Regions from separate parts of the Homo sapiens genome. Here regions 1 and 3 are each linked to region 2. Evidence: fine-mapped expression QTL. A gene starts in region 2. Each other region holds a variant in brackets. All regions are shown on one strand. Distances are between the middles of the regions. Region 1 overlaps OCLN (occludin). Region 2 holds the start of OCLN (occludin). Region 3 overlaps AK6 (adenylate kinase 6).

Region 1 (8,189 bases), 20 kb before region 2:
GAAACCCCATCTCTCCTAAAAATACAAAAAAATTAGTCAGGCATGGTGGTATGCACCTATAGTCCTAGCTACTCGGGAGGCCAAGGCAGGAGAATCTCTTGAACCCGGGAGGCGGAGGTTGCAGTGAGCCAATATTGCACCACTGTACTCCAGCCTGAACGACAGAGCCAGAAGCCGTCTCAAAAAAAAAAAAAATATATATATATATATATATTAATGTCTTTACCCCAGACCTGACTAGCAGCAGCCAGCATCCATCTTTAGCCACCCCACTCCCAGTGGCCAAAATAAACCTTCCTGGGAACCTGTGGCCATACCTTCATGACAATAAATCAATCTGCTCAAAGAACCCTGTGATGTCAGTTTCTGAGGTAGCTTCTAACAGGACCCTAACAGGATTTCTTAGAAAAAGTTTCACTCCAAACATCTTTTCATTTTTATTTTTTTCCGAGACAGGGTCTCACTCTGCCATCCAGGCAAGAGTGCCAGTGGCAGAATAACAGCTCACTGCAGCTTCAACCTCCCATGCTCCAGTGATTCTATCACCTCAGCCTCCTGAGTAGCTGGGACTACAGGCATACATCATCATGCCCAGCTAATTTTTTTTTTATTTTTTGTAGAGACAGGGTCCCATTATGTTGCCTAGGTTGTTCTCAAACTCCTGGACTCAAGTGATCCTTCCACCTTGGCCTCCCTAAGTGCTGGGATTCCAAGTGTGAGCCACCACACCTGGCCTCTAAAAAGCTCTAAAAACAGTTTACTAACACTCATTTGGGAGGCATCTTTAAAGAGGAACTTTCCAGGCTTTCAGCAAATCACATCATATAGGAAGCTTGGTAAGATTAATAGTATATATTTTTAAAAGGAAATTTTTCTAATCTGTCTTTGCCTCACTGAAGTATTTCATAATGTTAACTCAGAATTAGTCACTGTGGTTTGTCATGCTGTTATCTATGTCAAAAGTTTTGCCCTCTCCCTCTCCCCCCTCTCCCTCTCCCCACGGTCTCCCTCTCCCTCTCTTTCCACGGTCTCCCACTGATGCCGAGCCGAAGCTGGACTGTACTGCTGCCATCTCGGCTCACTGCAGCCTCCCTGCCTGATTCTCCTGCCTCAGCCTGCCGAGTGCCTGCGATTGCAGGCGCGCGCCACCACGCCTGACTGGTTTTCTTATTTTTTTGGTGGAGACGGGGTTTCGCTGTGTTGGCCGGGCTGGTCTCCAGCTCCGAACTGCGACTGATCCGCCAGCCTCGGCCTCCCAAGGTGCCGGGATTGCAGACGGAGTCTGGTTCACTCAGTGCTCAATGGTGCCCAGGCTGGAGTGCAGTGGCGTGATCTCGGCTCGCTACAACCTCCACCTCCCAGCCGCCTGCCTTGGCCTCCCAAAGTGCCAAGATTGCAGCCTCTGCCCGGCCGCCACCCCGTCTGGGAAGTGAGGAGCGTCTCTGCCTGGCCGCCCATCGTCTGGGACGTGAGGAGCCCCTCTGCCTGGCTACCCAGTCTGGAAAGTGAGGAGCGTCTCTGCCCGGCCGCCATCCCATCTAGGAAGTGAGGAGCGCCTCTTCCCGGCCCCCATGCCATCTAGGAAGTGAGGAGCGTCTCTGCCCGGCCGCCCATCGTCTAAGATGTGGGGAGCGCCTCTGCCCCGCCACCCCGTCTGGGATGTGAGGAGCGCCTCTACCCAGCCGCGACCCCGTCTGGGAGGTGAGGAGCGTCTCTGCCCAGCCGCCCCGTCTGAGAAGTGAGGAGACCCTCCGCCTGGCAACCGCCCCATATGAGAAGTGAGGAGCCCCTCCGCCCGGCAGCCACTCTGTCTGGGAAGTGAGGAGCGTCTCTGCCCGGCAGCTACCCCATCCGGGAGGGAGGTGGGGGGGTCAGCCCCCCGCCCGGCCAGCCGCCCCGTCCGGGAGGGAGGTGGGGGGGTCAGCCCCCCGCCCGGCCAGCCGCCCCGTCCGGGAGGGAGGTGGGGGGGGGTCAGCCCCCCGCCCGGCCAGCCGCCCCGTCCGGGAGGTGAGGGGCGCCTCTGCCCGGCCGCCCCTACTGGGAAGTGAGGAGCCCCTCTGCCCGGCCAGCCGCCCCGTCTGGGAGGGAGGTAGGGGGGTCAGCCCCCTGCCCGGCCAGCCGCCCTGTCTGGGAGGTGAGGGGCCCCTCTGCCCGGCCGCCCCTACTGGGAAGTGAGGAGCCCCTCTGCCCGGCCAGCCGCCCCATCCGGGAAGGAGGTGGGGGGGTCAGCCCCCCGCCCGGCCAGCCGCCCCATCCGGGAGGTTAGGGGCGCCTCTGCCCGGCCGCCCCTACTGGGAAGTGAGGAGCCCCTCTGCCCGGCCAGCCGCCCCGTCCGGGAGGGAGGTGGGGGGGTCAGCCCCCCGCCCGGCCAGCCGCCCGGTCCAGGAGGTGAGGGGCGCCTCTGCCCGGCCGCCCCTACTGGGAAGTGAGGAGCCCCTCTGCCCAGCCACCACCCCGTCTGGGAGGTGTACCCAACAGCTCATTGAGAAAGGGCCATGATGACAATGGCGGTTTTGTGGAATAGAAAGGGGGGAAAGGCGGGGAAAGGATTGAGAAATCGGATGGTTGCCATGTCTGTGTAGAAAGTGGTAGACACGGGAGACTTTTCATTTTGTTCTGTACTAAGAAAAATTCTTCTGCCTTGTGATCCTGTTGATCGGTGACCCTACCCCCAACCCTGTGCTCTCTGAAACATGTGCTGTGTCCACTCAGGGTTAAATGGATTAAGAGTGGTGCAAGATGTGCTTTGTTAAACAGATGCTTGAAGGCAGTATGCTCGTTAAGAGTCATCACCACTCCCTAATCTCAAGTACCCAGGGACACAAACACTGCAGAAGGCCGCAGGGTCCTCTGCATAGGAAAACCAGAGACCTTTGTTCACTTGTTTATCTGCTGACCCTCCCTCCACTATTGTCCTATGACCCTGCCAAATCCCCCTCTGTGAGAAACACCCAAGAATGATCAATAAAAAAAAAAAAAAGTTTAAAAGGCCTGCCACCTGCTATTCCAAAAACACTCTTGCCAATCTTGACCCACGAGAGCACCTTTGGCAATGGTTTCTGTTTATCTCCAAAATGATAAGCAGAAAAATAAAAGGGAGTAGAGGGAAGAAGTAGTTTTTGTTTTGCAAAGGCCAAGTTCTTTCTGCATGATTTTTTTAGAAGCCATTTCTTTTCAAAACCAAGATTCACTCCTTGAAAATGGAAATCTGATTTTCACCTTTTAGTAAAACCATTTCCACTTAGCCCATCCTCTTAAAATTCTGAGTAAAAACCAATGCAACAACCTTTGCAACATATACAAACATTAATTCTAAGAATAAAGTTTAACAAAGCACTAAAAATTCAGACACAAATTTGGGGCTTTAATAAAAGATGTAAAGTTATTTTTTAACACTTACCCACTCCTCGACATTGGGGGGCTGCTCATCATAAATGTGTTCCTTGTCCCACAAAATATTGGACTTGTCATACCTGTCCATCTTTCTTCGAGTTTTCACAGCAAAGAAAATTATTAAAGCAAAAGCCACAATAATCATGAACCCCAGTACAATGGCAATGGCCTAAAAAGGAGTGGAAAATATTGGCATAATTAGATTTTAATTGCTTAATCACAATTCACCCTCTACATATTATTAAAACCCTTATCTACCCTAAGGCCCTACTAAATCCATGTGGTTTAATTGATAGAAAACTGAAGCAAATAGTTACATTTCAGACATATCATAAAACCTAACCCACACTAACTGGGCTAAGGCCAGCAAATGTACACACACGTACATACTGCTTGACTCAATCCTCAGAAAATGCCTAATGTTAGGAACTATCAATCATCACCCTCATTTCAGAGCTGTAAAAAACTAGTTCCAAAGCTTGTACACCTACGGGCCAAGCTTTGTGCACCTACGAGAATGGCCAGTAAAGTAACTCAATCATTGGTATACTTCTAAAGGGCCTGAAAAATGCTACTCTCAAAAGTATTCACAGCTTTGAAATAGCCAATCATGCTTGTAATCTTGTTCAAAACATATGCTTGGCAAGCCTTTTTACACTGAATGTAAATTTCTGTCCATAGATCTCTATCTTACCAAAAATGATGAAGACATGGATCTAATCAAGCTATAAATAGCAAATTGACTAATGATTGATTTGGTCTGGCAGGTTTCTCTGTTTCAGGAGTCTTGCATACTACTAGAAAGGGCCCTGTAACAAAGAAACTTCCTACTC[T/CT]TAACAGTTCTCCCAGTGGTGATAGGATATTAAATGGTATATTGGCCTGGGAGGCACTTGAAGTTGAGGGAAATATCAGGCCTCTACCCTGGATGTCTGCTAATGGGAACAAGAGGCTCTCCTTCCAGCTGTCTTGACAGTGACATCATTTTTCAAAGAGTAAGTAGTAAGAGAACTAAGAGGGATAGGGGTGTGGTAGGATAGGAGTACCAACCCTCAGTCCCTATCTACCATGGACATGTCTAAATGGCAACAACGAGCACTGTGAAAACCTACGTCTGCAGGGAAAACCTTCAGTCTTCTAAATAATGGTAGACAGATACTAGAGGTCTAACTCCAAAGGAGTGACTCATTCAGGAATGGGAACTCCTGAGTTAGTGTAAGAAAAAAGGAAAAACAAGGGAAAAAAGATCAGTAACTCAGAAACATTTCAGATATTAATATAATCAGTATGACTCATGGTTACTAAAGTAGGTTTCTCAACTCCAACCTGCACATTTGAATCACTTGCTTAGCTTTTAAACATACTAACTTACACTCTGAAAACTATAAAACACTATTAAAAGAAGTTTAACAAGACCTACATAAATCAAAAGAATCTTACGTTCATGAATCAGAAGACTTGTAATTGTAAAGATGACAATACATCCAAAATTGACCTACAGATTCAATATAACCCTTCAAAATCCTAGCTGGCATTTTTTTCCAAAATTGACATGCTGATCTTAAAATCCATATGGAAATGCAAGGAATCCAGAATCTAGCCAAAACAGTCTTGAAGAACAAAGTTGGAGAACTCCCACTCCACAATTTCAAAACTTACTATAAAGTTACAGTAATCAAGACAGTATGGTACTGGCATTAGGACATATGATTAATGCAGCTGAACTGAGAGCCCAGAAATAAATGTCCACATTTATGATCAATTCATTTTTGACAAAGGCATGAAGAAAACTTAGTGGAGGAACAGTCCTTTCAACAAGTAACACTGAGACAACTGCATATAAACATGCGAAAGCTTTCAGAACCCTTGCTTCCATCATGCCCAAAATTAACACAACATGAATCACAGACCTAACTGTAAAAGCTAAAATTATGAAACTATAGAAAAATTAAATAATAGAAAACATAGGAGTAAATCCTTGTGACCCTGAATTAGGCAAAGCATTAGATATGACACCAAAAATACAAGCAACAGAAGAAAAATTAAATAAACTGGACATCATCAAAACTAAAAATTTTTTTTTTTTTTTTTTTTTTGAGACAGAGTTTTGCTCTTGTTGTCTAGGCTGGAGTGCAGTGGCACAATTTCAGCTCACTGCAACCTCCACCTCCTGGGTTCAAGTGATTCTCCTGCCTCAGCCTACTGAGTAGCTGGGATTACAGGCACGCCACCGTGTCCAGGTAATTTTTCTATTTTTAGTAGAGATGGAGTTTCACCATGTTGGCCAGGCTGGTCTCGAACTCCTGACCTCAGGTGATCCGCCCACCTTGGCCTTCCAAAGTGCTGGGATTACAGGCGTGAGCTACCATGCCCGGCCCAAAACTAAAAGCTTTTATGCAAAGGACACCATCAAGAAAGTGAAAAGATGCCTATAATCCCAGCGGTTTGGAAGGCCAAGGCAGGATCACTTGAGCCCAGGAGTTCCAGCCCAGACCGGGCAACAAAGTGAGACCCTGTCTCTACAAAAAATTTTTTAAAAAATTATCCGGGTGTGGTGGCATGCCCCTGTGGTCCTAGCTACTCAGGAGACTGAGGTAGGAGGGTCACTTGAGCCCAGGAGGTCAAGGATGCAGTGAGCTGTGACTGCACCACTGCACCCCAGCCTGGGTGACAGTGAGACTCTGTCTCAAAAACAAAACAACAACAAAAATAGCCCAATTAAAACATGGGCAAGTCTAGGCCGGGCACAGTGGCTCACACCTGTAATCCCAGCACTTTGGAGGCCGAGGCGGGCGGATCACGAGGTCAGAAGATAGAGACCATCGTGGCTAACACGGTGAAACCCCATCTCTACTAAAAATACAAAAAAAAAAAAAAATTAGCTGGGCGTGGTGGCCGGTGCCTGTAGTCCCAGCTATTCAGGAGGCTGAGGCAGGAGAATGGTGTGAACCCAGGAGGCGTAGCTCACAGTGAGCAAAGATCACACCACTGCACTCCAGCCTGGGCGATAGAGCAAGACTCCGTCTCAAAAAGAAAAAAAAAATGGACAAGTCTAAACAGCCATTTCTCCAAAGATAAGAGAGAAATGGCCAATAAGTACATGACTATATAGCTAATAACATTAGCTATAAAGAAAATACGAATCAAAATCACAATAAAGCACCACTTCACTTCTCACCCATCAGCATGGCTAGAATCAGACAATAACAAGTGTTGGTGAGGATGTGGAGAAATTGGAACTTTCATACATTTCTGATGTGAATGTAAAATGATGCAAACTCTTTGGAAAAACTCTGGTAGCTCCCCAAAAGATTAAAGAGTCACCATATGACCCAGCAATTCCACCCCTAGGTATAACCCAACTCAAGAAATCATTAAAACATAGGTTCACACAAAAACGTATACAAGAATGTCTATAGCATGATTCTTTTTTTTTGAGATGGAGTCTTGCTCTGTCGCTCAGGCTGGAGTGCAGTGGCGCAATCTCAGCTCACTGCAAGCTCCGCCTCCCGGGTTCACGCCATTTCTTCTGCCTGAGCCTCCCGAGTAGCTGGGACTACAGGTGCCTGCCACCATGCCCAGCTAATTTTTTTTGTATTTTTAGTAGAGACGGGGTTTCACCTTATTAGCGAGGATGGTCACAATCTCCTGACCTCATGATCCGCCCGCCTCAGCCTCCCAAAGTGCTGGGATTACAAGCATGAGCCACCGTGCCCAGTCTAGCATGATTCTTAATAGCCAATGTAGACACAAATGTCTATCAACTGATAAATAAAATGTGGTTTATCCACACACTGGAATATTAGCAATAAAAAGGAATGAGAGAATGGCACAAGCTATGACATGGGTAAACCTTAAAAACATTATGCTACGTAAAAGAAGCCCATCACAAAGACCACATTGTGTGATTCCATTTATATGAAATACCTAGAGAATAGACAAATTTATAGATGTAGGATTAGTGGTTGCCTAGGGCTAAGAATGGTTAGGGAAATGAGGAGTGACCGCTAACGGGTACAAGTTTCTTTTTAGGATAGTGAAAATGTTCTAAAATTGATTGTGGTGATGGTGGCACAATTCTGTGAATATATTAAAAACCACTGAACTGTTATTTAAGTAATCAAATTACATGGTATGTTAATCATATCTTAATGAGACTCAGCCCCTCCCCCAGATTTAATTAGAAGTGGAGCCTTGTCATCAATATTTTTTAAGAGTTTCCAGAGTGATTCTATCACATATCTCAAGTTGAAGGCCTCTGCTAAGGAGATGGAGAAAAAACCCAAAACACCACTCATACCTCCTGGGGATCCACAACACAGTAGTGATACAAATACTGATCCACGTAGAGTCCAGTAGCTGCAGGTGTATAAAATTGGTTGCAGAGGGCATATATTTGTGAACCATATAGAGATCCAGAAGACTGAGCAGTTGGGTTCACTCCCATTATATAGACAATTGTGGCAATAAACACCATGATGCCCAGGATAGCACTCACTATTATCACACTTAAGTAGTATCTTCTTGTTCTGGACATTTCAGATCTTATAACACTGGTAACAAAGATCACCAACGCGGCAATGAAACAAAAGGCAGCCATGGCCAACATGAAGCCCTTTGCTGCTCTTGGGTCTGTATAGCCTCCGTAGCCATAGCCATAACCATAGCCATAGCCATAGCCACTTCCGTAGCTACCAAAGCCACTTCCTCCATAAGGGTAGCCTACACTACCTCCTAAAAGGGAAGTTCCATAGCCTCTGTCCCAGGCAAGCGTGGAGGCCACACAGGCAAAGATGGCA
Region 2 (8,156 bases):
CTCCGAAAATAACTAACAACAATTTGAGCTCATGCAATTTATGCAAAGCTTAAGTTATTTGATATTTTTTTGGAGACCAGACTGGAAGACTTCTAAGGTCTCTTTCAAAGTGAATCTGTGACTGTGCTTTAAGGCCAGCAGCCAAAGGTGAAAGAGGACCAATGCCCAGCACAGCAACATTAACAATCTGTACATGTGTTGAGTGAAGGAAAAAATGAGAATGAAGAGGCCACTTATCACCTACAGGAACTTATGTCAGGAGAGTGACAAGGACAGAAGTCAGACAGCTAAATTAGAGTCGGGGGCAAAAGGGAAGCAGCAGATAGATCCTTGTCAAATATGTTAATCTGAAAACCAGCATCTTGGGCTAATGATAAAATATAAAGTGTTCTCCCCTTGACAATGTTTACTGACCAAAAGCTGTCTTAATGGAAAACTAAGCTAAGATGAAAAAAACAGGCTGAGGCTGGGCAAGGTGGCTCACACTTGTAATCCCAGTACTTTGGGAAGCCAAGGCAGAGGGATTGTTTGAGCCCAGAACTTCAAGATCAGGCTGGGCAACAGAGTAAGACTCCGTTATCTATCTTAAAAAAAAAAAAAAAAAAAAAGTATAAAAAAAGAAAAAATAGTCTGAAAATGCTTTGGCCTCAAATTATTCTTTAAAGAAAACTGTCAATAAGTGAAAAATAAACTTTATTGTATTTAAGAGAAGTCTGTTCCTTTTAGAGCACATGCAGTAACTGTCAATTTGCCTTTAAAAAGTTTAAGTTGTGGCCGGGCGCGGTGGCTCACGCCTGTAATCCCAGCACTTTGGGGGGCCGAGACGGGAGGATCACGAGGTCAGGAGATCGAGACCATCCCCGCTAACACAGTGAAACCCCGCCTCTATTAAAAATACAAAAAATTAGCTGGGCATGGTGGCAGGCGCCTGTAGTCCCAACTACTCGGGAGGCCGAGGCAGGAGAATGGTGTGAACCCGGGAGGCGGAGCTTGCAGTAAGCCAAGATCGTGCCACTGCACTCCAGCCTGGGAGACAGCGAGACTCTGTCTCAAAAAAAAAAAAAAAAGTTTAAGTTGTGCCTTATATTAAATGATTTAGACTACAGGCACATCATTAGTAAATTGTCTAAAAATTTGAAGTTAGGCAGATTTTGTAATAGACTCTGTGTCAGAAATTGTATTTTTAATAAATCTTCCAGGTGATTTTTAAACACATCACATATTTTGAGAATTGCTGTCTACAATAAAGGTGTCAATCCAAAAAGGACATTGATCTTGCAATTTCCTGTCTAGAAAGCCCAGATCTTTTACACAACAGACACCTGCTGTTCAGGTCTCAGCTCAGACGTCACCTTCTGGGAGATGCCCTCCCTGTCCCTCACTCCATCACACAAAACTTGTTTTTTTTTTCAGAGCAAACTCCCCTCTGCCCTCATACCTAAAATATAGGTATCATCTCCACCGCATCTGGAATGCCCATATCCCAGACATCAAATGTCTATTTTGACCATCATTTATATCCCTGGTCGCTGGAACTAGCCCTGGCACAAAGTGATTGTCAATGAGTACTCAATTAATAAAACCAACAGTCAATTATTAGAGTTGGGATTTCAATCCAGCAGTGAATGCCTTGAAGTTCTTCACACAACACTCAATAAACGTTATTTTTTCCAACTTCAGTTTGTCAAATGTAATTAAGTGCGTAGAGTCTAAGAGAAAGGGAGAAAAAGAAGACAGAACAGTCTGAGAATCACCTGTGAGCCTGTTAGAAAGGCAGAATCCCAGGCCCCACTCCTGACCTCCCAATCAGAATCTGTGTTTTAATAGGATCCCTAAGTGATTCATACCACAGCCAAGACTGGAATCACTGGGTTACGGAACAGCGGCAAGCCTAGGGGTTAAAACAAAAAGCCTAACATAAATCTGCATGGTCTGTTTACTCTCTTATTTCCATAAATAGTAATTTGATGAAAAAGATCCATTAATATTCCAATCAAATAAGCCTTAAAATGCAACTGAAGAAAACTTCCTTCTGGGAGGTTCCTAGGAAGATGAAAGATATTACATCAGATCATTTATGTGGTTAAAAGTAATATACTATTTTGAAAAGGTAGTAATTCCAACACTACCTTTAGAAGAAAACAAGAATTTTACCTTGATATCAAGCAAAATGCGGGAAATCTTGTATCAGGCTACAGTTACTAGTCAATGGTAGAAAAGTCCAGAAAAATTCCCCAAATCTGGTTCTGGAATATCAAGGACCGCTGCTTCTGATACTCCTTCCCATATTAGCTGAAGCAGTTTGCAAGCAAGCCCACCTGCAACGTTTCCCCCACGGCATTTGCCCACTTTTAAAATGGAGTTCTACTAAGGCCTGCCTTTTAGAGTTGTTGGGATAATTAAATGAGAAAATACAGAATGCTTTTACCACAGTGCCTCACGTGCAGGAGGCACTGCTGCCCACTATTTCCCGAAATGGCCTGGAAACTGCCAAAAGGTGGAGAATCATGTCTTACCGATCTCCCTATCCTCTGCTCCGTCACCTAACAAAGGAGGCCCCTAATAACTAAATAAATTGCAAAACGACCAAAAAAAAAGTGTTGCTTTGTTTGAGGAAATATCTCTGCCTCCCACACACACTTAAGATGTCTATTTTAAAGCACCACTAAGAAAATATTCATAAAGGCTGGGTGTGGTGGCTTACGCCTGTAATCCCAGCACTTTGGGAGGCCAAGGCGGGCGAATCACCTGAGGTCAGGAGTTCGAGACCAGCCTGACCAAATGGCAAAACCCTGTCTCTACTAAAAATACAAAAATTAGCTGTGCATACTAGTGGGTGCCTGTAATCCCAGCTATTCGGGAGGCTGAGCAGGAGAATCGCTTGAACCCGGGAGGCAGAGGTTGCAGTGAGCCCAGATGATGCCACTGCACTGGGGGACAGAGCCAGACTCCGTCTCGGAAAAACACACACACACACACACACAAGCACCTCATATGTACAGTGCAAAAGAACTACTGTTACTATTGTTACACTTGGGAACGCCTAGTTTTCTATCACACCAAGAATCACCAAAAAACACCATAAGTGCCTTCATGGGAAACGTTTCTCTTTTCCAGGTATCCCAATAATACACCTGTTGCCTAAGGGCCACACACTGACTGGCCTGGAAAGCCGCCGCCTCCTCCTCGAGCAGGGTAATTCCCCAAGCGGGCAGTGTGGCCAGCGAGCCCCGGGTCCGGCCTAAGGATGCCGCGGCTTTTCCCTCGGGCCCGGTGGCTTCCCGAGGAGCGCGAGGGGCTCGGCGCCGCTCCCAACCCCTAGGCGCAGAGGCCATCTTGGCCCTCGACCCCTGCTCCCCGCACGCTTCCTCCGACGCAGGCAACATGGCTGGCGCGCGGGGCCGGCCCAGTCCCGGAGGTCCCCAAACTCCGTGGCCCGGCTGGGCGCGGGTCCCGGCTTCCGTGCGCACCGAGGCGCTCCCAGGCAGCGCGCGCCCACGTTCGCCGGGCAGGCACCGCCCGGAGGCAGTTCCGCCCCCCTGGGGGCAGCCCTTTTGGTCACGGATGAGAATCCGAAGCGTGAGCAGCTTCCCTCGAAGTCCAGCCTCACTCGAAATTAACTCCCCGCCCCCCAGCTTAAATCGACGCGGGTTCACACAACTCGCAACAAGTGGATTCGAAGTAGCCAGTGTGGCCCACACCGTGACTCCTGGAATATTTCACAGATTGAATCCAGCCCCCGTCTCCCCGGGATATCCAAAGGGGTGGGGTGGGAGCGGAAGGAATGAAATTCCCCCCGGGATCTAAGCCGCCCGGGCCGCCGAACAGCCGCCTCGCTGCAGCCTCAGGCTTAGGACCCCCAAGGAGCTGGGCGCAGGATCCCTCTCCATGAAGGCCGCCCCCCCAAACTGCAGCCCCAGAGCGGATGCAGGATCGTCGCTGTTCAGGAATGTCGTGCCCCATAAAAGTGAAAAGTTGCCCGCGCCGCTGAGGCACTGCTAGCTTTCAGCGTTTCCGCGGAATAAAGCTTGATCGGCGGCTCCAAGCCACCCCTCGCCCCAGGAGGCAGCCTCCCAAGTTGGCCGGTGCTGCTCTCTCCGCAGACCCGCGCCTCTCTGGTTCCCACGAGTCCCAGCTCGGGGACGAAACTGCCACCGAAACCAGCGCGGAGCGTCCTCCCCCCGGCACCTCCCCTAACATAGTCGCCGCGGTCCCCCCACGGGGACCCTCGGGCTCCCGTGCGCCCCTGACGCCGCGCCCAACACTCACCCGCTCGCCGCAACTGGGCCCGACCCTCCGGGGGCCAACGGTGCCAGGGAGCGCGCTCACCTGGCGGGCGCACCTGACGCCGCACCGACCGCCAGCGCTCAGCCGGGGACTGGGCTGGGGACGTCTCCTCCCCCTTCTCCCTCTCCTTTCCCTCCTCCCTACAACCGGCCCTGCCCCCGGGCATGCGCACCAACGTGGAAGGGGGTGCGGGAAGCCTGCGGGCCAGCGCCGCGAGTCCCACCTGCTGCGTCCTAGACCGGCTCCTCGGCGCTCTGGACCTGGCTCTCGGTTCCTGCCGCCTCCGCCAGAGGAAGCAGGGAGGGAGAGGTGGACGCGGGAGTGTAGGTGTGGTGTGTCGGCCTCCTCCCTCGGTGACCAATTCACCTGAAACTCGGATGGGAGGGGGCGGGAGGACGCGGTCCTGCTTCCCACACCCTGCCAGCGCGCTGTTAAAGGAACCGCGCGACGTTGCGGCCCGAGAGGCGGGGCGCAGAGGAGAGGCGCGGGCTCCTAGGGGGCAGCACGGATGGGGGTCCCTGACCACCCCGGGGTGCGTTCGGTGCTCCGCCTGCTTCGGATGGAACCTTGGGGTGTCTGATGGAGAGAGGCCGAACGAGGTCCAGAGGGGACTGTTTCCTCCGGAAAGAGGGTCCAGGCACTCAGCACTTTGATAGGAAAGGCACGTCCTCACAGGACACTTTTCTGCTTCCAGAATTTGATTAAACTGTTGCTGGAAAAAGGCATCTAGATGTATTGCTCCAACGAAAGACTCCTGGGAAAATTTCAAAAGTCGTGTGTAAACATTGGCGCTGTTTCTGAATCTCTAGATTCAGAATAAGAGACAATTACTTAGAGGGGTTAAAATGAGGGTGAACTACTGTAGGTGTTAGTTGCCATCCAGCAGGCTAAAGTGCATAATACAGTTTACACATCACCACCCCAGGGTCCTCTCCTGCCCACCCGGTCCGCTCTTGAGGACCGGGAAATTTAAACTATTATGGCTCTTTGGCCTGAGAAAAAGCACCTTATACGTTGTTTACCAACCTGTAGTGCTTTAAGAACAACACTACTTAAAAAGCAAAATAAACTTGGTTTACTTTTTTTTTTTTTTTAAGAAAACGAAAAAGCACCTTAGTTCCGGGTGCTGTATTCTATTTCTTGATCTGGATTCTGTTTCCAAGGGAAATTTCATAGTCTGCACTTAACACTGTGTATATTTTTATGTATGTTGGTTGTTTTTCAACATATTTTTTAATTGTACTCCAGGATGTGGCAATTATAGTTCTTGGCATTTAACTATCTGCATTGAAAGCGAACTTTTAGGTTTCTTACATCCTGCTTGTCTTTGTGTTCCAATCTGGAATGTCAGCATTGCTAATAAATTTCTATCCAATCCCACCCACTTCTCTACCTTTAATTAAATGGTTAGAGATGTGACTCTCCCATACATTAGATCTTAAGGCACAATTCATACTTGAGGAAGTAAAAGCACTATATAAATATGAGGTATTTCAGATGATGGCAGCTTTAATGGGTAATTAATTTAATTGGTATTTTTTTCGTGGAAGTCATTGCTACAAATGCTTTAATATGACTATGTAGTTTTTGAATGATGCAGTTTAAATTGGTATTGTTAACACTGGGGAAGTCAGGTTAATCCCCTTAATGTTCCCTGTCAGATTACTGAAATCTCCAAACATTCCATTTGGTTTATAATTAAACAAGGGAACATTTCCTAATACTCTCAGATTTGTAAACACATGTCTATTATTTTATAATGTATTTTGACATGTTCTGAAGAGATCTTAGGAGTTTTTTTCCACTTTATAAAAGAGAGTTCACATACCATAAAATTCACCCTTTTAAAGGGCACGTACAATTCAGTGGGTTTTAGTATACTCACCAGATTGTACAACCATCACCACCATCTAATTCCATTTTAATCGCCCCCAAAAGAAACCCCATGCCCATTAATAGTCACTCCCCATTTCCCCTCTCCCCTCATCCCTCGGCAACCACTAATGTACTTTCTGTCTCTATTAATTTGCCTATTCTGGACATTTTATATGAATGGATAATACAATATGTGCCCTTTGTGTCTGTCTTCTTTCACTTAGCATAATATTTTAAAGGTTCATCCATGATGTAGTATGTATTGGTACTTCATTCCTTTTTATAACTGAATAATATTCCATTGTATCGATGTATCACATTTCGTTTAATCATTCATCTGTTGATGAACATTTGGGTTGTTTCTCCTTTGGGGATGTTATGAATAATGTTACTATGAACATTTGTGTACAAGTTTTTGTGTGGACATATGTTTTCGGTTCTCTTGGTAAATTAGGTTTTTAAATTAAACTTTTTATCATTTTAAGATAACTTATGCATATCATGTTATTTTTCTTATTCCCACCCTAAACCTAAACTCAAAGACATGTTGTGTTGGGTAGAAGGCTTTCATATTCTATTTGCTTTCCCAATTCATTCCTTCAACTATTTTCTGAGTGCCTAATCTGTACACACACGAGTGAACAAAACTCAAAAATCTCTGTGAAACTTACTTTCTAGTTAGTTCTGAGTTCATCCATATGGAATAATAGGATTCATTAATTGTATGAATTCTATTTTATTCGCTTGAGATTAATTTTCTAAACAACAACATCAAAAGAACGGTTAACTATTGTCCAATATTGTGTATATTTCATAGTTGAAAGTGTCTAGAAAGAAAATCCAGCCTTAAAACTTAAACACATCATTCTTCAATACCAAAACAAAATTTGTTGGATGTTAAATGATGCCATGCTCAATTTAATCATGTTACATAATCATAAATTATAGCAAAATTTAATTACTATATTTTTTACCAAATATTCCTTCTTGGCAACTCACAGTAGTATTGAGTAGTATCCACTATTGAATATTATTTGATGAAAATCCCCGTGACTCAGAGCAATGTAAATATTATTTTCAGAACCCCATGATTAGAAACTTGTTGACTTTACCTGCAGTCAAATGGATAAGATGAAAAGACAATTTGTTTCTCCTTTTCTATGTGTAAAAGAGAAACTTAAGAGCTCAGATTATGGTGTCAGAAATCTCAGTTCAAATTCCAGTGTTGCTACTTGGTAGCTGGGTAGGACTAAAGGAAATTAAACTATGTAAGGTTCATTTTTTTCCACCGTAAATTTGAGATGATAATAAACAATACTGTCTTTATAAGTCTGTTGGTGGGAATGTGGAGCATTCACCAAGACAGACTATATGCTGAGCCACGAAACAAGTCTCAATAAATTGAGCAAGCCATTGCTGTATCCTATATGCCTGAAATAGTTCCTGTCACATAGGAATTACATAACTATGTGTTGGATGAATGAATGAATGACTATAGCCCTGCTTCCCAAATCCAACATGCCTGTGGAGTCTTGTCCTCCTCTCAGATGGCCTCCTGCTATTGTGAAACCCGCACGTTCCTTAGTAGCATTTCAAGGCTTACATCTCTAGTACTAGGGTTTAGAGGAGAAAAGACGGGAGATTAACATAGTTCCACTGTTTCCACTCTGCCTTGCCTGCTTAGTAAATGAATTCAAAGACTGGTATGTGTCCAAGGCAACTCAGTTTGGAGTTGCTGAGGGCCTGGCCTGAAAGGCCTCTAGTTTCTCTGCCCAGTCATGAGGAGGGGGAGGCTTCTGGTCCACACAGGACAGTTTCCTTGGACAGGTGTATGGAAGAATTTATGGGGAAGCCACTAGGAAGACAATTTCTAAAAGGATGATTACACTAGATGAGTAAACCTTTATCTTCTCTATTCCTATGTGTTAAGCAAGATCCTCCTGGGAGGAATCCATATTTAAACAAAGAGACTCAGCACCTGAACAGGAACTTCA
Region 3 (8,189 bases), 140 kb after region 2:
ACCCTAACTGGAATACAGTGGTGCAATCCTGGCTCACTCCAGCCTCAAGCAGTCCTCCCACCTCAACCTCCAGAGTAGCTGGGACTATAGGCTGGCACCGCCATGCTGGGCTAATTTTTTTTTTTTTCTTTTGGTAGTGGTGGGGTGTTGCTATGTTATCCAGGGTGATCCCGAACTCCCAGGCTCAAGAGATCCTCCCACCTCGGCCTCTGAAAGTGCTAGGATTATAAGCGCGAACCACCATGCTCACCCTTTTAACTCTGGCCCCACAATTGATTTTTTTTCTGCAAGCAATATATCTGTACCTGGAATTTAAAAAAATAAACTGCAAAACTTTGTTTAGAAAGTTGATTTAATTTTCTAATCTCTCAGTCCTTAAACAAATCAACCTTTTTGATCTTTGCTTAAGATCCTATGTATAGGCAAGTATAAATTTGGCTTCCAATTGAAACTTTCTAAAGTAGCATAAAATTTATTCTTTTTTTGAAATTTGAAATGAAGTTTAGGATCCGTTCATTTCTCTGGTACAGGCTACAATCATCACTTACCTAAAAATCTGCAGTAGACTTGATAGCCTCTGGGACTCCGTCTCAAAAAAAATAAAGACTTCAATCCTAAAAGTTAACACATCTATTTTAGACAGCATATATTGGTTCAAGTCATCTTTCTTTTTTTTTTTTTTTTTTTTTTTTTGAGACAGAGTCTTGCTCTGTCACCCAGGCTGGAGTGCAGTGGCGCGATCTCAGCTCACTGCAGCCTCCTCCCGGGTTCAAGCGATTCTCCTGCCTCAACCTCCCAAGCAGCTGGGATTACAGGCACCCGCCACCACGCCTGGCTAACTTTTGTATTTTTGGTAGAGATGGGGTTTCACCATGTTGGCCAGGCTGGTCTCAACTCCTGACCACAGGTGATCAACCACCTCGGCCTTCCAGTGTGCTGGAATTACAGGCATGAGCCACCGCACCGGCCAGAGTCATCTTTTAAAAGTCAAAGATTTAAAGTATGAAGGAACCTCCGTGTTTATCTATTCAAGATTACCACATAGTACAGAATCAGCTATAGGTATTCTTAGATTTTGTGGTACTGTTAAAAAAATATGCAATACTGTAAAAATAGTATATGGAAAAATACTCCAAAGCTTTTGTTTTTCTTCTAATCTTTGTCCCTAGTAAGGACAACTTTGAATTCTGCTTTTTGTGTTTTACACTTGTATATGTGAGCATTTATCATGTTGCTGCCTAGTCTATACTACATAGTATTTTTAAACTATGTTAACTATAATACTATAACTCTAATACTTATTAATTTTAATTACATAATTTTTACAAAATTAATTACATAATATTTTATAAAGTTATAAAGTTGGTAAATCAAGATTTAACTTTTCTTATTGTTCAACATTTTTTATTATTTTCTAATTTTGTCCAATTAGAAATTAAATGGTAGTGTAAATATCTAAATGGATTGAACATATAACAGGCATAAATATAGACTCATTTTAATTTGCATCTCTTTAATAGCTAGGAAAATTCAGTATTTTTTCATGTGTGTTTACTGATTTTTTCCACTCTTCCATCTTGTGTGAATTCTTTTCTTGTTTATTGAGCAATTGTTATTTTGGTTTTAAGGTCTTTATATTATCTACATTTCAGTCCTTTGTTATTTCTCCCATTCTGTTACTTTTCTTAGAATTTGATTATTTCTCAAGGAACAGAGAGTCAACATTTTAAATAACTGGATCAGTCTTTTTATTTCTTCTGCTACTCAACAAACTCAAATGAATCATTCCTTTATAGCTCCATCTGGGGTTTGTGGTATAAAGTAAGGATTTAGATTGTTTTCTAAATTGTTAACCAGTTTTCTTCATACCAAGACAGTTTAATTTTTTAGGTTGGTAGAGTTCCTGGTAGGTGAGCAATAGCCCAAGGAGGCAGAGGCCACACTAGAGTGCTAGAAAGGTGGTTTATGTGCCTAGAATCAGTCCACAGACCCTCCAGGCAAGACAAGGAGTTACAACTGCTTTTGTGCCCTCCAGTGTCCATCAGACTGCCCCCGCAGTGACCATCAGACTACTCCTGTGTCCCTTCAGAATTTATGTTCATTTTAACCTCATTTCAACCCGTACCAAAATATTAAGGGGAAAGAGGTGGGAAGACTGCTATATAACATGCTCTCAGAGATGGTTAATGGATGATCTGAGCTTGCCTTAGATTAATACCTCCTAAGGGCTGGGGCTAAGGGTAAGATGGTATGTCTTACCTCCTGAAAGAATACTTCTTTTGAAAACCAGCTGTGATTTGTTGGAAAGTTCTTATGTTAAATTTAAATTTGCCTCCTTTGTAACTTTGAACGTTATTTTTGTTTTGCCTTCTGAAATGAGACTATTTAACTCTTATGAGGAACGGCAGTTTGGAATACTGGAAATCTAGAAGTAAAGATACTGTTCAGGAGCATTTGGATCCTGACCCTTCTCTATTCCCATGAGGATGTGAGCTCAGTGACAGAGGGTTCATTTCTGGAATAAAGAATCTGTTATTGCTTTTTTCTTTCTTTCTTTTTGGAGACAGGGTCCTGCTCTGTCGCCCAGCCTGGAGTACGGTGGTGTGATCTCACCTTATTGTAACCTCCACCTCCCAGGCTCAAGCAATCCTTCTGCCTCAGCCTCCCAAGTAACTGGGACTACAGGTGTGCACCACCATGCCTGCCTAATTTTTTTTTTTTTTTCTGTAGAAACAGGTTCTCAACATATTGCCCAGGCTGTCTTGAACTCCTGGGCTCAAGAGATCCTCCTACCTCGTATGGGCTGGGATTACAAGCGCAAAGCCACCATGCCTGGCCTGTTACTGCTTTTGATAAATTAATCTGCTTTTAAATGTATGTGAGTGTGTTTGTATCTGTTCAGGTGTTTCCTCTTCCCGCCAATCTGTAGTTCAACAAAAATAGTGTAGTCCTCTTCTAGTAGCCCCACAAATTCTGAAGTTGGTTATTCACTCTTTTTAGTTGGTTTCAGTTTTGATATTTAAAGCAGTTTCAGATATATTGCAATCCAAGTTTCCCTCTAAACAAAATTCCAATTTATCAGTTAGTATGGCTCCTTTATATTTGGTGTTTATGTAACATTTATTTTGTTAGTATCCACCCTTGTATCTAAAAGAATAATTGATGATACATTTCCTTTCCTGAAGTCTAGAATTAATTGAAAATTACTTAAAGTTACTTAGAAAATATTTCAACAAGCAATTCTAAATCTCTTTTAGAGCAATTGTATGATGGCTATGATGAAGAGTATGACTGTCCCATTTTAGATGAAGACAGAGTAAGTATGACTTTTTCATAAAGTATGCATTTGTTGAATTTCATAGGAAAGTTGACTTCAGTTTTCTTAAGAAGCATTTTTTTTTAAACTTTTCTTACAGGTAGTTGATGAGTTAGATAACCAAATGAGAGAAGGTGGAGTTATTGTTGATTACCATGGTTGTGATTTCTTCCCTGAACGCTGGTTTCATATAGTTTTTGTGCTGAGAACAGATACCAATGTATTGTACGAAAGACTTGAAACAAGGTAAGAAAGGAAAAACATTAGATTCTTAAAGCATAATGTTAACTTTTATTCAGATTTCTGAAATTGGCCATGATAAAAGATTGTTGTTGTTTGTTTTGTTTTGTTTTGTTTTGTTTTTTTGAGATAGAGTCTCGCTGTCACCCAGGCTGGAGGGCAGTGGTGTGATCTCGGTCCACTGCAACCTCCACCTCCCTGGTTCAAGCAATTCTTGTGCCTCAGCCTCCTGACTAACAGACCACGGGCACATGCCACCTTGCCTGGCTAATTTTTTTATTTTTTGTAGAGATGGGGTCTCCCATGTTGCCCAGACTGGTCTCGAACTCTTGGGCTCCAGCAATCTGCCCACCTCAGCCTCCCAAAGTGCTGAGGCTACAGGTGTGAGTCATAGCACCCAGCTAATAAAGGGTTTTATTTGAAAATATGACTACTTTAAAATATGGGCAGTACTTTTTGAGTAAATTAATATCTCAACTGACAATCTGATTGAGTAAAATGTACTGTGTAGAAACCCAATTTAGTCGGCCGGGCACAGTGGCTCA[C/T]GCTTGTAATCCCAGCACTTTGGGAGACCAAGGTGGGAGGATCACAAGGTCAGGACATCGAGACCATGCTGGCTAACATGGTGAAATCCTGTCACTACTAAAAATGCAAAAAAAATTAGCCGGGCATGGTGGCAGGCACCTGTACAGTCCCAGCTACTCTGGAGGCTGAGGCAGGAGAACGACGTGAACCTGGGAGGTGGAGCTTGCAGTGAGCTGAGATCACACCACTGCACTCCAGCCTGGGCAACAGAGTGAGACTCCGTCTCAAACAAAAAAAAGAAACCCTATTTAGCCATGCTTTTTCTTTGATGTAAACCCTTGCTAGGAAAACAGCCAAGCCCCTAACATATTCTTTGCTTATTGACTGAACACTACTCACTCAAATTATCCCTGCATCAGGAGTGGGAAAGCTTATGAAAAACTAACAAAATAAACCAGCATTTCACAGTCTTTAATAGATACCGAGTTAAACCCACAAATAGAGCATCAGATTTAATGCGGAAGAACCAGTAAAGAGAAACTTTTAGGGAAGTCTTTTATCCCCACTGTCTTTTGATCAAAGCTGTGGGAATATGGGGATTCTAGAGAAATTAGAGAGCAATCTCAGAAAGGAAAGCTCCAGAATTTTGCTTAAGGTCGGGGTCAGAATGTGTGGTTTTCACTGATTATAGTCAACTCTGACTAACCACTATTATTTGCAATACTTGTAAATCCTTGCACAGAATAGTATGGCAGCAAATATACATATAGAAAAAGTTAAATTGGGGCTAAACCTAAAACTTTTATCTTTTTTAGGCAGTGAAAAGCCATTAAAAGTTTTGGGGCAGAGAAGTAATAGAGACTATATGGTACATATGCTTTTTTTCAATCAAGACAATTTAAAATTTTGATTAAAAAATTACTGTTTTACATATATAGCCAAGGGTAAGACTAAGGTATGAAAAAACTATGAGAGAGCTAGTTAGTATTTTTAACTATCGAAAAGGTTGTAAAAAAGTAACAGCTTTAGGCTGGGCATGGTTGGGTGGTGAGGGGGAGGCAGGACGGCTCACACCTCACACCTGTAATCCCAGCAATTTGGGAGGCTGAGGCAAGGTGATTGCTTGAGCCTAGGAGTTTGAGACCAGCCTGGGCAACATAGCAAGACCTTGGTCTCTACAAAAAATAAAAAATTTAGCCAAGTGTGGTGGCATGCACCTGTGGTCCCAGCTACTTTGGAGGCTGAGGTGGGAGGAATGCTTGAGCCTGGGAGGTTGAGGCTGCAGTGAGCTGTGATTGCACCACTGCACTCCAGCCTGGTTGACAAAGCAAGACCCTGTCTCAAAAGCAACCAAAAAACAAAAATATCCACTTTATTGAGATTTAGTTTACATTCACCCACTTAAAGTACATAATTCAGGTTTTTTTCTAGTTTTATGGGTACATAGTAGGTGTATATATCAGTTGCTCATTTGTTTTTTTGTATATCAAAAAGTTGTACAATCATTACCACAAACAATTTTAGAAAATTTTGGGGGTGGGCGCGGTGGCTCACGCCTGTAATTCCAGCACTTTGGGAGGCCAAGGTGGCTGAATCATGAGGTCAGGAGTTCGAGACCAGCCTGACCAACATGGTGAAACCCCGTCTCTACTAGGAATACAAAGATTAGCTGGGCGTGGTGGCTTGCACCTGTAATCCCAGCTACTCAGGAGGCTGAGGCAGGAGAATTGCTTGAACCCGGAAGGTGGAGGTTGCAGTGAGCCGAGATCACACCACTGCACTCCAGCCTGGGTGACAGAGCAAGACTCCGTCTCAAAAAAAGAAAATTTTTGTCACCCCAGAAAGGAACCCCATACCCAGTAGTAGTCACTCCCCATTTACCCTCAGTTCCCCAGCCCTAGGCAACCAATAATCTACTCTCTGTCTTTATGGATTTGTCTATACTAGATATTTCATATGAATGAAATCATACAGGATGTGGACTTTTATGCCTGTCTCCTGTCAAATTAGTTTGTTTTCAAGGTTCATTCATATTGTATCATAGACCAGTACTTCATTTCTTTTTATTGCCAAATAATATTCCATTGTATGGATGTATCATTTTTAAAATACATTTATCAGGTTGTGGACATTTGGGTTGTTTCACTTTTTGGCTGTTATGAATATTGTATCCATAAACATTCTTGCACATGTTTTTGTGTGGACATCATGTGTTTATTTCTCTTGTTTATATATCTAGGAATTGAATTGCTGGGTAATATGGAAACTTTGTATTTGACCCTTCCAATAACTGCCAGATTGTTTTCCATAGTGGCTGCATCATCTCATATTCACACTGTGTATGAGGGTTCTAATTTGTCCACATCCTCACCAACAGCTGTTATTGTTCATATTTTGGTTGTAGTCATCCTGCTGGATGTGAAGTAATATCTCATTGTAATTTTGATTTGCATTTCCTATACAGCTAGAGATGCTGAACATCTTTTCATGTCCTTATTAGACAGTTGTGTATCTTCCTTGGAGAAATATTTACTCAGATTCTTTGCTTAAGTTTTAATTGGGTTACAAATCTTTTTATTACTAAGTTATGAGATTTTGCTAATTTACTAATTCATTGGGAATTTATTGAGTAGCTGACAAATTGTGGGGGGGGGAAATTCAAACAAACCTAGATGCTGGTTTGGTGATCTTTAGTTTCACCCTAGTGTCAAGAAACTGTGTCATATAAACAGGTACCAGTCACTCCTCTCTAGGTGAAGAGACCATTTCTGTAATTTTTCACGTATTGAAAAGTGTCCAGTTTCTGGTATGTTTCTGAAACTCCAGTTAATGCCATTTATTTTGCTTCTTGTTTGCTTAACCTCCCTGCCTTCTAGGGGTTATAATGAGAAGAAACTAACAGACAATATTCAGTGTGAGATTTTTCAAGTTCTTTATGAAGAAGCCACAGCATCCTACAAGGAAGAAATCGTGCATCAGCTGCCCAGTAATAAACCAGAAGAGCTAGAAAATAATGTAGATCAGATCTTGAAATGGATTGAGCAGTGGATCAAAGATCATAACTCTTGACTTATAAGGCTAGCTACTTAATAATCACTCTTGTTGATATCTCTGCCGACATCATAGAAATTGTTCAAGTGTCAGTAACACTTTATTAAAATCATGTTGCAGAACCAGCAGGTGGATAGTATATAGGTTTATGCCTGTGTTTCTTTTTCTCCATGAGAAAGCTAAACATGAAATATAATGAATATAGTATTATTAAGGATTGAGACAAAAACTGTGATTTTAATACTTAAATTGCTAAAGAATAAATAAATCTGACAAAATGGGTGGATATCTTTTAAGTTTATTACAGAAAAAAATGCAGATGATCTCTTAAAATAAAACTAAAGATAAAGCAACAGAGTATTCCTTTTTTCTTTCTTTAAATTAGAAAAAAAGTTAAGTGTTGTACTCGATACAAAGTTCAAAAGGTACAAAAGAGCATGTTGAAAAGTTAGGTCTCCCTTCCAGACCACCCTATCCCCAGGCACCCCAGGTTCCTTCCCTTTAGGAAATAATGTTACTGGTTTCCTATATGTCTTTTTAGAGGTTTTATGCCTGCACAGTGTATATGTACATGTGTACATTTTTTAAAGAATATAACAGTATATTATGCACACTATTCTGTACCTTTCTTTTTTCACTTACTATATTTGAAGATTATATCATCTCAGTACAGACCTCCCTGTTCTTTTTTTTAGTTGAGATAGATATACATATCATACAATAAAATTTACCATTTTGAAGTGTATAATCAGAACCGGGTATGGTGGCTTATGCCTGTAATCCCAGCAAATGGGGAGGCTGAGGTGGAGAATCGCTTGAGGCAGGAGTTCAAGACCAGCCTGGGCAACATAGTGAGACCTTAGACTCTAAAAATAAACATAAATAAAATTTATAATCCGTTGGTTTTTAGCTTATTAACAAGGTTATGTAACTGTCACCACTGTGGAGGAAGCAGTGATGATAAAGGGAACTCCTATACCCTTTAGCAGTCACTCTCTATTCTTTCCTCCTCATCCCCTTGCAGTCACTAGTCTACTTTCTGTCTCTATGGATTTGC

Evidence for each region. PIP is the estimated chance that this variant, and not a neighbour inherited with it, causes the effect. A credible set is the group of variants that fine-mapping cannot tell apart.
Region 1: its variant is the best candidate, but not a certain one, in a credible set for the expression of OCLN in whole blood (TOPMed, PIP 0.55).
Region 3: its variant is the best candidate, but not a certain one, in a credible set for the expression of OCLN in whole blood (TOPMed, PIP 0.58).

Annotation. Positions count from the first base shown.
Region 1 is chr5:69,509,321-69,517,509 of GRCh38, reverse strand. OCLN (occludin) reads right to left here. Exons shown (of 9, transcript NM_001205254.2): 3 at 7,691-8,189; 4 at 3,401-3,562. Among named protein-coding and RNA genes, the nearest start is that of OCLN, 21 kb to the right of the region's middle. RefSeq lists an enhancer at 1-399. The variant T/CT (reference allele first, on the strand shown) is at 4,227.
Region 2 is chr5:69,489,014-69,497,169 of GRCh38, reverse strand. It overlaps OCLN (occludin), which reads right to left and starts at 4,380. Exons shown (of 9, transcript NM_001205254.2): 1 at 4,270-4,380.
Region 3 is chr5:69,351,022-69,359,210 of GRCh38, reverse strand. It overlaps AK6 (adenylate kinase 6), which reads left to right. Exons shown (of 5, transcript NM_016283.5): 3 at 3,258-3,316; 4 at 3,417-3,562; 5 at 6,958-8,189. The coding sequence ends at 7,150. Among named protein-coding and RNA genes, the nearest start is that of AK6, 14 kb to the left of the region's middle. The variant C/T (reference allele first, on the strand shown) is at 4,102.